Linked DNA regions of Homo sapiens. The protein of the gene in region 2 purifies or fractionates together with the protein of the main gene of each other region. This does not show direct contact. Each region holds a gene or a part of one and is shown on either strand. Other genes may lie near its edges. The genes, in order: GRHPR, CXADR and CD9.

Region 1 (3,653 bases), on a different chromosome or scaffold from region 2:
GCTGAGACAGATTTGTACAGTTGGATTTTCAGGCTCAGAACGTGCCCCAAAGCTGTTGGGTTCCTCCAAGCAACTCTCTAGTGAGAGGCAGGGCTGTTCGTTGGCTAGACAGGTTCTCCACACTCTCCACCCTCACCCGCACCCCTGCACCAGGCAGGATGACAGAGAACCACCAATAGATAGCTGCTTGGCTAGGCTCACGCCCTTCTGCCAGGCTTCTCCAAATAAGGGCCACTGGAAGAAAAGTGTCTCTGCCTCATCTGCAGAACTGCAGATCAACTCTGCCCACTGAGCCCTCCGGCCCGAGTTAGGGCTTTGTGAGTCACATACCTTCCAGAACGCAAGCCGGAGTAGGTGTCGGGGGAATGGGCTCTCTCACGGTAACCACTCCTAACGGCCCCAACACATTTGTAGTCTTCATCTGTTCTTTATGGAGCCGGAATCATGAAGCCCCCTGACCCTTAGGCAACTTGCTTTTATCACCTGGTGAGTTCTTAAGGAATCCTGCTTTGGTTTATTTATGTATTTGCCTGTGTTTTACAAAGCTGTATCCCTCATTAGAGATATCTCTACTGCAAGCAAAGTGCCCTGACAGCATGTGGGTCTTCTCAGCCTTCAGACACGTGGTGCCAGGGATGCAAACCACGCTGTGAGAGCCGGGGCGGGCAAGCGGGCCGGTGGGAGCCTCACCTATGCGCCCCAGCCCGATGATGCCGACAGTGCTCTGCGTGAGTCCATAGCCACACAGCCAGAGGGGCTTCCACGAGGTCCAGCCACCACTGAGGGGAGAGAGAGGGGCAGGTGAGAGGCCCAGCCTTGGACCAAGATGGGGGCCGCTGAGAACCCGGCACCTCTGACTGTGGTCCAAGGTATAAACCCACCCTCCAGGTCACGGACTGAGAGTGGGATGAGGCACTGCCACTCGGCACTGCAGATGAGCAGCAGAAACGACTCCACCTTTAAAGCCACCAGAGACATAGAACTTGAGGGCGGGAAGGGGCCTTACTGGCTCTCATCCTGTTTTGCAGATGGGAAAACAAACCAGAAAGGGTGACTTGCCTGAGGTCACACAACCAGGGAAGAGTTGAGAGCAACAGGCTGCAAACTCAGGATTTATGATTCCAAAACAAGTTCTCTTGGCACTTTAGGGCAGCAACAAAGAGTACAGCCACAGGGCCCACCCTGCTGCCCTGGGCAAGAGATGGAGCCTGCCCTGAGCCACCTCCAGTAGATGTGATGACTCCCCAGACAGGACAGTGAGCAGGACTCAGCACTGTCTACTCTGCTCCATGCCCCGTGCCGGGGCCCACGCTGCTGGCCACGCACTGTGAGAGCCTGCGTTTGCACGCCTCCCACCTTGACTCGGGCCAGTCCCTCCATCTGCACATGGAATGCTTCCCCCAACTTTTTTTTTTTTTTTTTTTGGAGACAGGGTCTTGCTGTGTCGCCCAGACTGGAGTACAGTGACATGATCTCGGTTCACTGCAGCCTCTGCCTCCTGGGTTCAAGCAATCCTCCCACCTCAGCCTCCCGAGTAGTTGGGACTACAGGCGTGTAACACCACGCCTGCCTAATTTTTGTATTTTTTGTAGAGACAGACTTTTGCCACATTGCCCAAGCTGTTCTCCAACTCCTGAGGCTCAAACAATCTGCCCGCCTCGGCCTCCCAAAGTGCTGGGATTACAGGTGTGAGCCACCGTGCCCGGCCAACTCTAACTCTTGATATACAGGCCGAAATCCCTGATCTGAAACCTTCAGGCTAGATTTTAAAACTGTTTGGCCTTTAGAAAGGCAGCATGGCGCACGTGGTAGATTCCACACATCACCCTCTGCAGTGTCTGGGCAGCAGCCTGTTTTAAAAGTGTTACATCTGCAGCAAAACTTAGGAAAGTCACATTAAATGGGAGAAATAAAAGCCTTAAATAGTCTCCTGTTAGTATGAAAGAACTTTCAGCTGTCCGAGCTTTTTAGATTTTGGGATCTAAGGGATGGTGGACCTGCAGCTTTCAGGACTCAAGCGGACGCCCACCTGCTACTTATTCTGTGAAGCCCTCCCTGATCCACACTCTCCCTGCCAGCCCTCACCCACCAGCAGAACTTGTTTGTCCTCCCTCATCCTCTTCTCTCACCACTTCCCTTTCTGCCCTTATTGCAGCTCTGCTTTGTGCTTTATTTTAGCTGAGTCCTCACTCAATGGGGCACACCTGGGGTCAGGGACTATGCGTGGGCTGGACTGGCACAGTGATCAGGATCCAGTGCTGAGCAGAGCCAACGTTCCTGCCAGGCGTTCACTTATTTTTCTTTTTTTTTTTGAGACAGAGTCTCACACCGTCACCTGGGCTGGAGTGCAATGGTGTGATCTCAGCTCACTGCAACCTCTGTCTCCTGGGTTCACATGATTCTCCTGCCTCAGCCTCCCAAGTAGCTGGGATTACAGGGACCCACCACCACACCCAGCTAATTTTTTTTGTATTTTTACTAGAGACGGGGTTTCACTATGTTGGCCAGACTGGTCTCGAACTCCTAACCTCATGATCCGCTCACTTTGGCCTCCCAAAGTGCTGGGATTACAGCCGTGAGCCACCGCACCTGGTCTGCGTTCACTTACTTCTTCACTTCCTCGATGGCCTCCGGCAACCGGCGGCAGGTGGTAAGTAGCAGGGAGACTGCGAGTTCGGCGGTGGTATCTGTCAGGACATCTGGGGTGTAGCCAACTCGGATCCCACTACGAATCAGACATCTGGTGGTAACATCAGCCTCAACCATATTTACCAATGTCTACTGCTGGGACATTTCCATGGAGTTACTTTGCTCCCTCTTTGATCTGCCTGCCAGGAAGCTCAGAACTATAAATGAGCACTCAAAAACGGGCAGTCCTCATTCCTATTTAGATTATCTCCCACTTTGGAAGGATATGAAGATGGAAGATCAGGGTTCAGGGACTGAACAAGTAACTTAACCTTTCTGAATTTCCTCATCTGAAACAGAAAGAATAACACCTGCCTTTGCTACTTCAAGGTATTGTTGTGGGGATCAAAAAAGATAATGAATGTGAAAGGGTGCCACCTACACAGAAGTTACCCACTGTTTCTGACTGCTGGGGTTTATTGTAACTGACCTGTGCACATGTGGACAGATTCTATCATCAGCCACCTCACATTCTCCCTGAATGGCCGAGGGATATGCAGTAAAAACAAATCAACAGCTCTTCTTTCTCTCATAGCCACCCCTCTCTCTAGGCCCCCTCCAGATCCCAAGCTGCAGTTACCGCTTCTTGATTTCATCCAAAGCCAAGTGGTCGATGCCCACAGACATGGTGCTGATGACTTTGAGATTGGCCCCTGTTGTGCAGAAAGTGCATTGTTAGTATCTTTCCTCGAGGAACTCAAAGCCACAGCACTGGGGACTATCATGGGGACACCGCTTATTATTGTTTTCTTAGAATAAGAGGCTGACATCTCTGTTCTTCAGTTAAAACTCTGAATAATCCCCTTTGACAGCCTCAGACACTGCAGTTCAGGGAGGTTAAGTGGCCTGGCTCAGTCACAGGCAGAGCCGGGTTCACCTCAGGGCCTCTGCCACCAAGGCCCCGCTCTTACCCACTGGACTGTCCACCCAGCGAGGCCTCCGGTCTTCTTTAGCCACGCTGGGGC
Region 2 (2,932 bases):
ACTTCTACTTAGATCAATAGGATAATTTTCATTATATGAAAGTCAGGAATAGGAAGAACCAAAACTTTATTATTAATGTTCTGTTTATTTACTTATTTTTTATAATATTTTATAAATAAACTTTATTCATATAAAACAGGCCAAACATCTGACTTTCAAAAATGGCTACTGTTATAAAATCAGAAACATAGAGTGTTGGGAATATTGAAATTTCTAAACCTTTATGAATAACACAATTGCTTAAGTTATATCCACAAAGAACAGAAAAGAGGCAAGCTTGAAAATGTGAGGATAGAAAGGTATCACAGTGATGTGTTTTTAGAAACAGTACCTTCACCTCTAAGCACCTTTCAGGTAGGTGATAGCTAGCTCATAGGCACCAGAAATTCATAATAGAAATTAAATTACCAAAAGGCACAGATGAAAATGTTAACACGAGTATAAAAGTAATTTTACATAAGGTTAAAACCTGTTTTTAAAATGCTTCCAAATATGTAAAACTATACACAAATCCATTACACATTCAGCTTAAGTTTACCATTAAAAAGTGTACACACAATACTCTAACTGTAAATACATGCCACCGTTCATAATATAGCATTTACCACCACAGCACCCAAAGATATTAACAGAAACCAACTCCCTACTAAAATCTAGGGAAAGGTTTTAGAGCTAGTGAAATAATTTATTGCAGACCGTATTTATTATAAAGAAACTGTTGGCTCATTCTACTGTATCCACACTCCCTCACAATCTTAAGGGAAATACAATAAACCCACTTTCTTCTCCTAAAATGATATTTAGCACATTTGGCAAGGAGGAGTAGTCCCTTTACTCCTCCTTCTTATCTTTTTTTCTTTTTCTTTCTTTTTTTTTTTTAAGAATAAATCACCTTCACAAAACTAAGACAAACTTTTTCAAAGCTCAGCTTGATTTGCTGGAACTACACAGAGACATGTTTGATCACACAACAGCAACTGTACATCCTCCCAAGTCTGGAATACAGAATTGATGGAGGACACTTAACTTGCTTAAAATGTATTTGATTATTCTGCATTTATGATAAAAAATATCATCCAGGGATTATATTCAAGAGGGTAAATTTAGGATTACATGTTTCTAGAACATATAATATGTAACACCATCCAAAAACAACAACAACATAAAGCACTGGAACCAAAGAACCACTTAAAATTTAGAATAAATTAGGAAATTTCAATCTATAAGTGTCAAACAACAAATGAGTTATAATATTTTTCTAATAAGAAAAATATCACCTGGGAACTATGAGATACTACATCCTTGATCTGGCTGGCCACCATTTTGAAGACCACCACAGATCTCAAGGCATGAGACTACTCACCAACAAAATCTATCCCTGCTATTGCACCTAGTGTCATCTCAATATGTGGCTGACAGCAAATGTTCTAACTTAATCTGATAGATGCTCCTTTAGCATATAAAAGAGCTTGCTAAGTCCCTATTACCTGTAGCAGTCTATCAACTAAATATTTAAGAAGTCATTTCATAGACAAGGTTTATGAATGACTTAGAAGTAAAATTAGTAATTTCTAAACCACTGTAGTGTTTTCTATGTTTTTAGAGATATTCCAAACACAGAGTTTTCAAAGGAGCTGTAAAACCAAGTACAAACATACGTAAGTAATTTTGTCATGGATATTTCTGTACTAATTTGGGGGAGACTGGTGGGCCATAAATAAATGAAATACACATCCTAAAAATAATGGTAAAAATGATCAAGTACCACTTTCAGATGGTTATTCAAGTATCAACTTGGTATGCAAGTAAGTTCACCCATGTCTTCACCTATGATTTCATATTCAAAGCGCTACATCTTACTTAGGTACTGATAAATTTAGAAAACTTTATAATCAACCTCTTAAAGAAAATCCAGCTTTTTCAGATGGTAAACTTTTCTTTACTAACTTTAGTGCCTGTAACTATTTCGATATAACCAAACAAAAATTTTTAAAAATATATTCCGTACAGTTCCTGATTAACTTATTTTTTGATGTATTTTGAGGCTAGTAACACAATTTAGACCAGAATAGGTTTTCATATATCAAAAAAAGGAAAGGAACACGGAGAGCACAGATGAGACATATGGAGGCTCTATACTATAGACCCATCCTTGCTCTGTGCTGGAATCATCACAGGAATCGCACCCATTCGACTTAGATTAGGGGCAGCTACCTTAGCAGGTGGGAGAGTCGGACTCTGAGGAGTGCGTTCAAAGTCTTCACTTGGTACTTGGTTATACTGAGTCTTGGAATATCCTTCCATGTTGGAAGGAGACATGGACCCCAGGGATGAATGATTACTGCCGATGTAGCTTCTGGCAGTGGACGTACGGCTCTTTGGAGGTGGCACATCTTCCCTGCAAAGCAAAATCCCCAATACATGTCAAGAGAATAAGTTTCTAAAAACCTACAATTATGCAAGCTATGAATCATGGATAAGAGCCTGTATTTAGGTACTAAACATATAAAAGTGTGTGTGTGTGTGTGTGTGTGTGTGTGTGTCACAAAAAAGCAAAAAGCACAAGCCATAACGTCATAAATTGTGTATGTCTCCAATCTGTCATTCTGATTAAAGAGTTATAACTTCACACTTAATGAAATATGGTATTTACACAAATGTAGATGATTCTAGAATGTTGTCTTACAAAACACAAATCTCAAATAGTTTCATATTCTAGTATCACTGGTCAAGACAATCTAGTTAAAGCCATGTAACACTTTATAGTTGAGAAAACACTAACACCTACAGGTATATTTCTATCTTAATCACACCTGTAATCCCAGCACTTTGGGAAGCTGAGGTGGGCAGATCACTTGAGATCAGGAGTTCAAGACTAGCCTGGCCAATATGGCAAAACCCCATCTCTACTAAAAATACAAAAATTAGCCGG
Region 3 (3,653 bases), on a different chromosome or scaffold from region 2:
CAGTGGGGGTAGTGGGTGCTCGAAGAGAGTCTAAAAAAAACAGCCGGTGCTTCCTCTCCCTGGCCTTTGTCCTGAGAGCTTCAGCCACACCCTTGGTTCCACTGGTCATATAGTCAGGGTGGACAGAGGCGGCGCTCTGGGAAGGGACTCTCCAGGGCAACTCGCACATCCTCCTTTCCCCTTGGCTGCACTGTTGCAGCTGCCCATTGGCATTGTGTCCATAGACGGGACCGCAGCCCGTTCAGTGGCCATGGTCCTTCCATCCCCCGTGAAAACAGCCCCAGAGTGGGACCCGGAGCCTCTGCCCTTCCCCAGAACCACCCTGCCAGCAAAGGGCAGAACAAGATGACATCAGCACAGGCCTCTCTGTGTTATAGCCCTGGGCACGAGCTCTCAAGACACACCCCAGGGTCCTAGAGGAGAGTGCCAGCCTCCCATGACAAAGAAGGCCAAAGTGTCCCTCCTCATCCTAGAAGATAATCTAATTTCTATTTGAAATGAGCAGTCCCAGCTGGGCGCGGTGACTCACGCCTGTAATCCCAGCACTTTGGAAGGCCGAGGTGGGCGTATCACCTGAGGTCAGCAGTTCGAGACCAGCCTGGTCAACGTGGCAAAACCCCATCTCTACTAAAAACACAAAAATTAGCCGGGCATGGTGGTACATGCCTGTAATCCCAGCTACTCAAGAGGCTGAGGCATGAGAATCGCTTGAACCCAGGAGGCAGAGGTTGCAGTGAGCCGAGATTGTGCCACTACACTCCAGCCTGGGCAACAGAATGAGACTCCATCTCAGAAAAAAAAAAAAAAAAAAAAAGAAATTTGCAGTCTGGGTCTCTAAAGGGTTGTGTCTTAGGGAGCCAGGGCTACAATTTGACTAGAGAGGAGGAAAGGAGAGTATGAAGAGATTTTCTCAGGCTTGTAGACAGGAAGCTTTAAAACATCTGAGCTTAGCAATAATAAATTTAAATCCACAGTCCCACATTGTGAGAAAGAAGATGTTTACATTGCACCATGGAGAGCAGGAGGAATATGTCTTAGTGGGAAGGGCCTCCCGTCTCTAGGAACGGGGCCGCTGAGGGAGGTATGGATGACTCCCCACCCAGAAAACATCCAGTGGAGTTGGGCATAAATCTGGGGTGTGCATGCACACTACACACTGCAACTGCCCACCTACAAGGGAAGACATGATGTGGATTCAAACACCAGATTTCTATTGACTTGAAAAGCTACGACGAGCCCGGTGCGGTGGCTCACGCCTATAATCCCAGCACTTTGGGAGGCAGAGGTGGGTGGATCACCTGAGGTGAGACCAGCCTGGCCAACATGATGAAATCCCATCTCTACTAAAAATACAAAAATTAGCTGGGCGTGGTGGCATGTGCCTGTAGTCGCAGCTACTCAGGAGGCTGAGGCGGGAGAATCACTTGAACCTGGGAGGCAGAGGTTGCAGTATGCCAAGATTGCGCCACTGCACTCCAGCCTGGGTGACAGAGCGAGACTCTGTCTCAAAACAAACAACAAAAAAAGCAATGATGAGTTCACAAATAGTATGATTTTGCTGATCATTTCATTTAGAGTTTTAATAAATCAGTACACTGTATTATCATACTACATTCAATCAACTTAGGTTTAAAAGACATTAAACTACACACCTGTAATCCCAGCACTTTGGGAGGCTGAGGCGGGTGGATCACCTGAGGTCAGGAGTTCAAGACCGGCCTGATCAACATGGAGAAACCCCGTCTCTACTAAAAATTAGCCGGGCATGGTGGCACACCCCTGTAATCCCAACTACTCAGGAGGCTGAGGCAGGAGAATGGCTTGAACTCAGGAGGCGGAGGTTGCGGTGAGCTGCGATCGCACCATTACACTCCAGCCTGGGCAACAAGAGTGAAACTCCACCTCAAAAAAAAAAGAACAAAAACAAACAAACAAACAAAAAAAACTAAAATCCTTGAATAGGTTTTGAATTAATAAATTCATAATTAATAAAACTGCCTGATTAACTTTATGGTATTTTTAGCCTCAGTCGAGGTTCTTCTCCTATGACCCATGTATTGTGTTGTTTCTGAACTTGGAGACTAACACACAGCTTAGACTGGGAGTGTCAGCAAGGGACTGGCACCTGAAGCTGTGAAGCTCAGTTCCGAGGAGAGGGCTTGGCAGGAGCCACCAGCTGCTTAGCCTGCTCAGAGGTGTCACTGGAAACTTGGATGTGCATTGGGTAAGCTGTGAAGGGTTACTTTTCTTTTCTTTTTTTTTTTTTTTTGAGATGGAGTTTCACTCTTGTCGCCCAGGCTGGAGTGCAATGGCACGATTTCAGCTCACTGCAACCGCCGCCTCCCAGGTTCAAGCAATTCTCCTGCCTCAGCCTCCCAAGTAGCTGGGATTACAGGCACCTGCCACCATGACTGGCTAATTTTGCATTTTTAGTAGAGAGGGGGTTTTTCCATGTTGGCCAGGCTGGTCTCAAACTCCCAACCTCAGGTGATCCGCCTGTCTCGGCCTCCCAAAATGCTGGGATTATAGGCGTGAGCCACCGCGCCTGGCCTGAAGGGTTACTTTTCTAGCAGAGCTCATAAGAGCCACTATTTCTTCCCTCAGGCACAATGCCTGGCTTAAGGATTGAAGAGGAAGGGCTCTTAAGACCCGGGTTTCTGATTTTTCTCCAAGTCAGTAGTCCCCAAACTTCTCTCTACCGGGACCTCCTCTGGAATCACATTAATCCGGGCCCCTCTCCAAGTCAGGCTGCTTTGCCTTTCCCAGTTACTCAACCAGGCTGCTTCTCAACTCCTTGGGAGTGCAGCTCCCCAAATGATCCCTCCTGAGACATTCCTCCTTTCTGCAAGTCCTCAGAGGACGAGACTTTCCGTCTGCATTTGGAGGGAAGGAGAAGAGAGACAGACCTCCTTTCTTCCTGAACAAAGATGAAGCACCAAGCTCTGGGAAAAGCTAAGCCAAGAGGCCCAACCTGGCTGGAAGATCATACAGTTGCATTTTTCGTGTGTACTAGAAATACAGAGCACTCATTAAATTAACCGAGTGAAAACCACTCCTTAGGCAATGATTAAGCTGAGAGTCAGAGGGATGGGTGGGAGGCCAGCTGTCCCATCTGAGCTGCACTTGATCACTAGGGAATTTATCATTTCTAATGCCTTTCACAAAGTCCCCTGTGATGCCCCCATTGCAGCCCCCGGGGAACGGTGAGGCAACCTGCTTCTTATGGCAGAAATATGGGACTCAGGACAGAGCAGGGGTTGTCTGGAAACTGAGGGAGAAAAACCAATATGGGGCATTTATAGCGTGAGCTCAGGCTGGGCGTGGTGGCTCACATTTATGATCCCAGTGCTTTGGGAGTCCGAGGCTGAAGGACTGCTTGAGCCCAGGAGTTCAAGACCAGCTTGGGCGACATAGAGAGACCCTCTCTGTACAAAAAAATTAGCCGGGTATAGTGGTGTGTGCTGTAGTCCCAGCTACTTGAGAGGCTGAGGCCAGGATTGTGTAAAGCCCAGGAGTTTGAGGCTGCAGTGAACTATGATGGTGCCACTATACTGCAGCCTGGGCAATGGAGAAAAAGGCAAAAAAAAAAAAAATGTCTATGGGCCTCCAGAAACAGACATAACATTTTTCTGGAGGCAGGTCGTACTGATTCC

What was found.
Region 1: the proteins of CXADR (region 2) and GRHPR fractionate together in Homo sapiens (co-fractionation; one large-scale study listed by BioGRID). This does not show direct contact.
Region 3: the proteins of CXADR (region 2) and CD9 purify together in Homo sapiens (co-immunoprecipitation; one large-scale study listed by IntAct). This does not show direct contact.

The regions. Positions count from the first base shown.
Region 1 is NC_000009.12:37,425,610-37,429,262, reverse strand, and holds part of GRHPR (glyoxylate reductase/hydroxypyruvate reductase), read right to left. Parts: intron 3,342-3,653; coding exon 3,269-3,341; intron 2,726-3,268; coding exon 2,609-2,725; intron 780-2,608; coding exon 691-779; exon of another isoform or gene 422-690; coding exon of another isoform or gene 331-421; intron 1-330. UniProt on the Homo sapiens protein: Enzyme with hydroxy-pyruvate reductase, glyoxylate reductase and D-glycerate dehydrogenase enzymatic activities. Reduces hydroxypyruvate to D-glycerate, glyoxylate to glycolate, oxidizes D-glycerate to hydroxypyruvate.
Region 2 is NC_000021.9:17,564,894-17,567,825, reverse strand, and holds part of CXADR (coxsackievirus and adenovirus receptor isoform 1 precursor), read right to left. Parts: intron 2,399-2,932; coding exon 2,134-2,398; 3' UTR 1-2,133. UniProt on the Homo sapiens protein: Component of the epithelial apical junction complex that may function as a homophilic cell adhesion molecule and is essential for tight junction integrity.
Region 3 is NC_000012.12:6,206,841-6,210,493, reverse strand, and holds part of CD9 (CD9 antigen), read right to left. Parts: intron 1-3,653. UniProt on the Homo sapiens protein: Integral membrane protein associated with integrins, which regulates different processes, such as sperm-egg fusion, platelet activation and aggregation, and cell adhesion.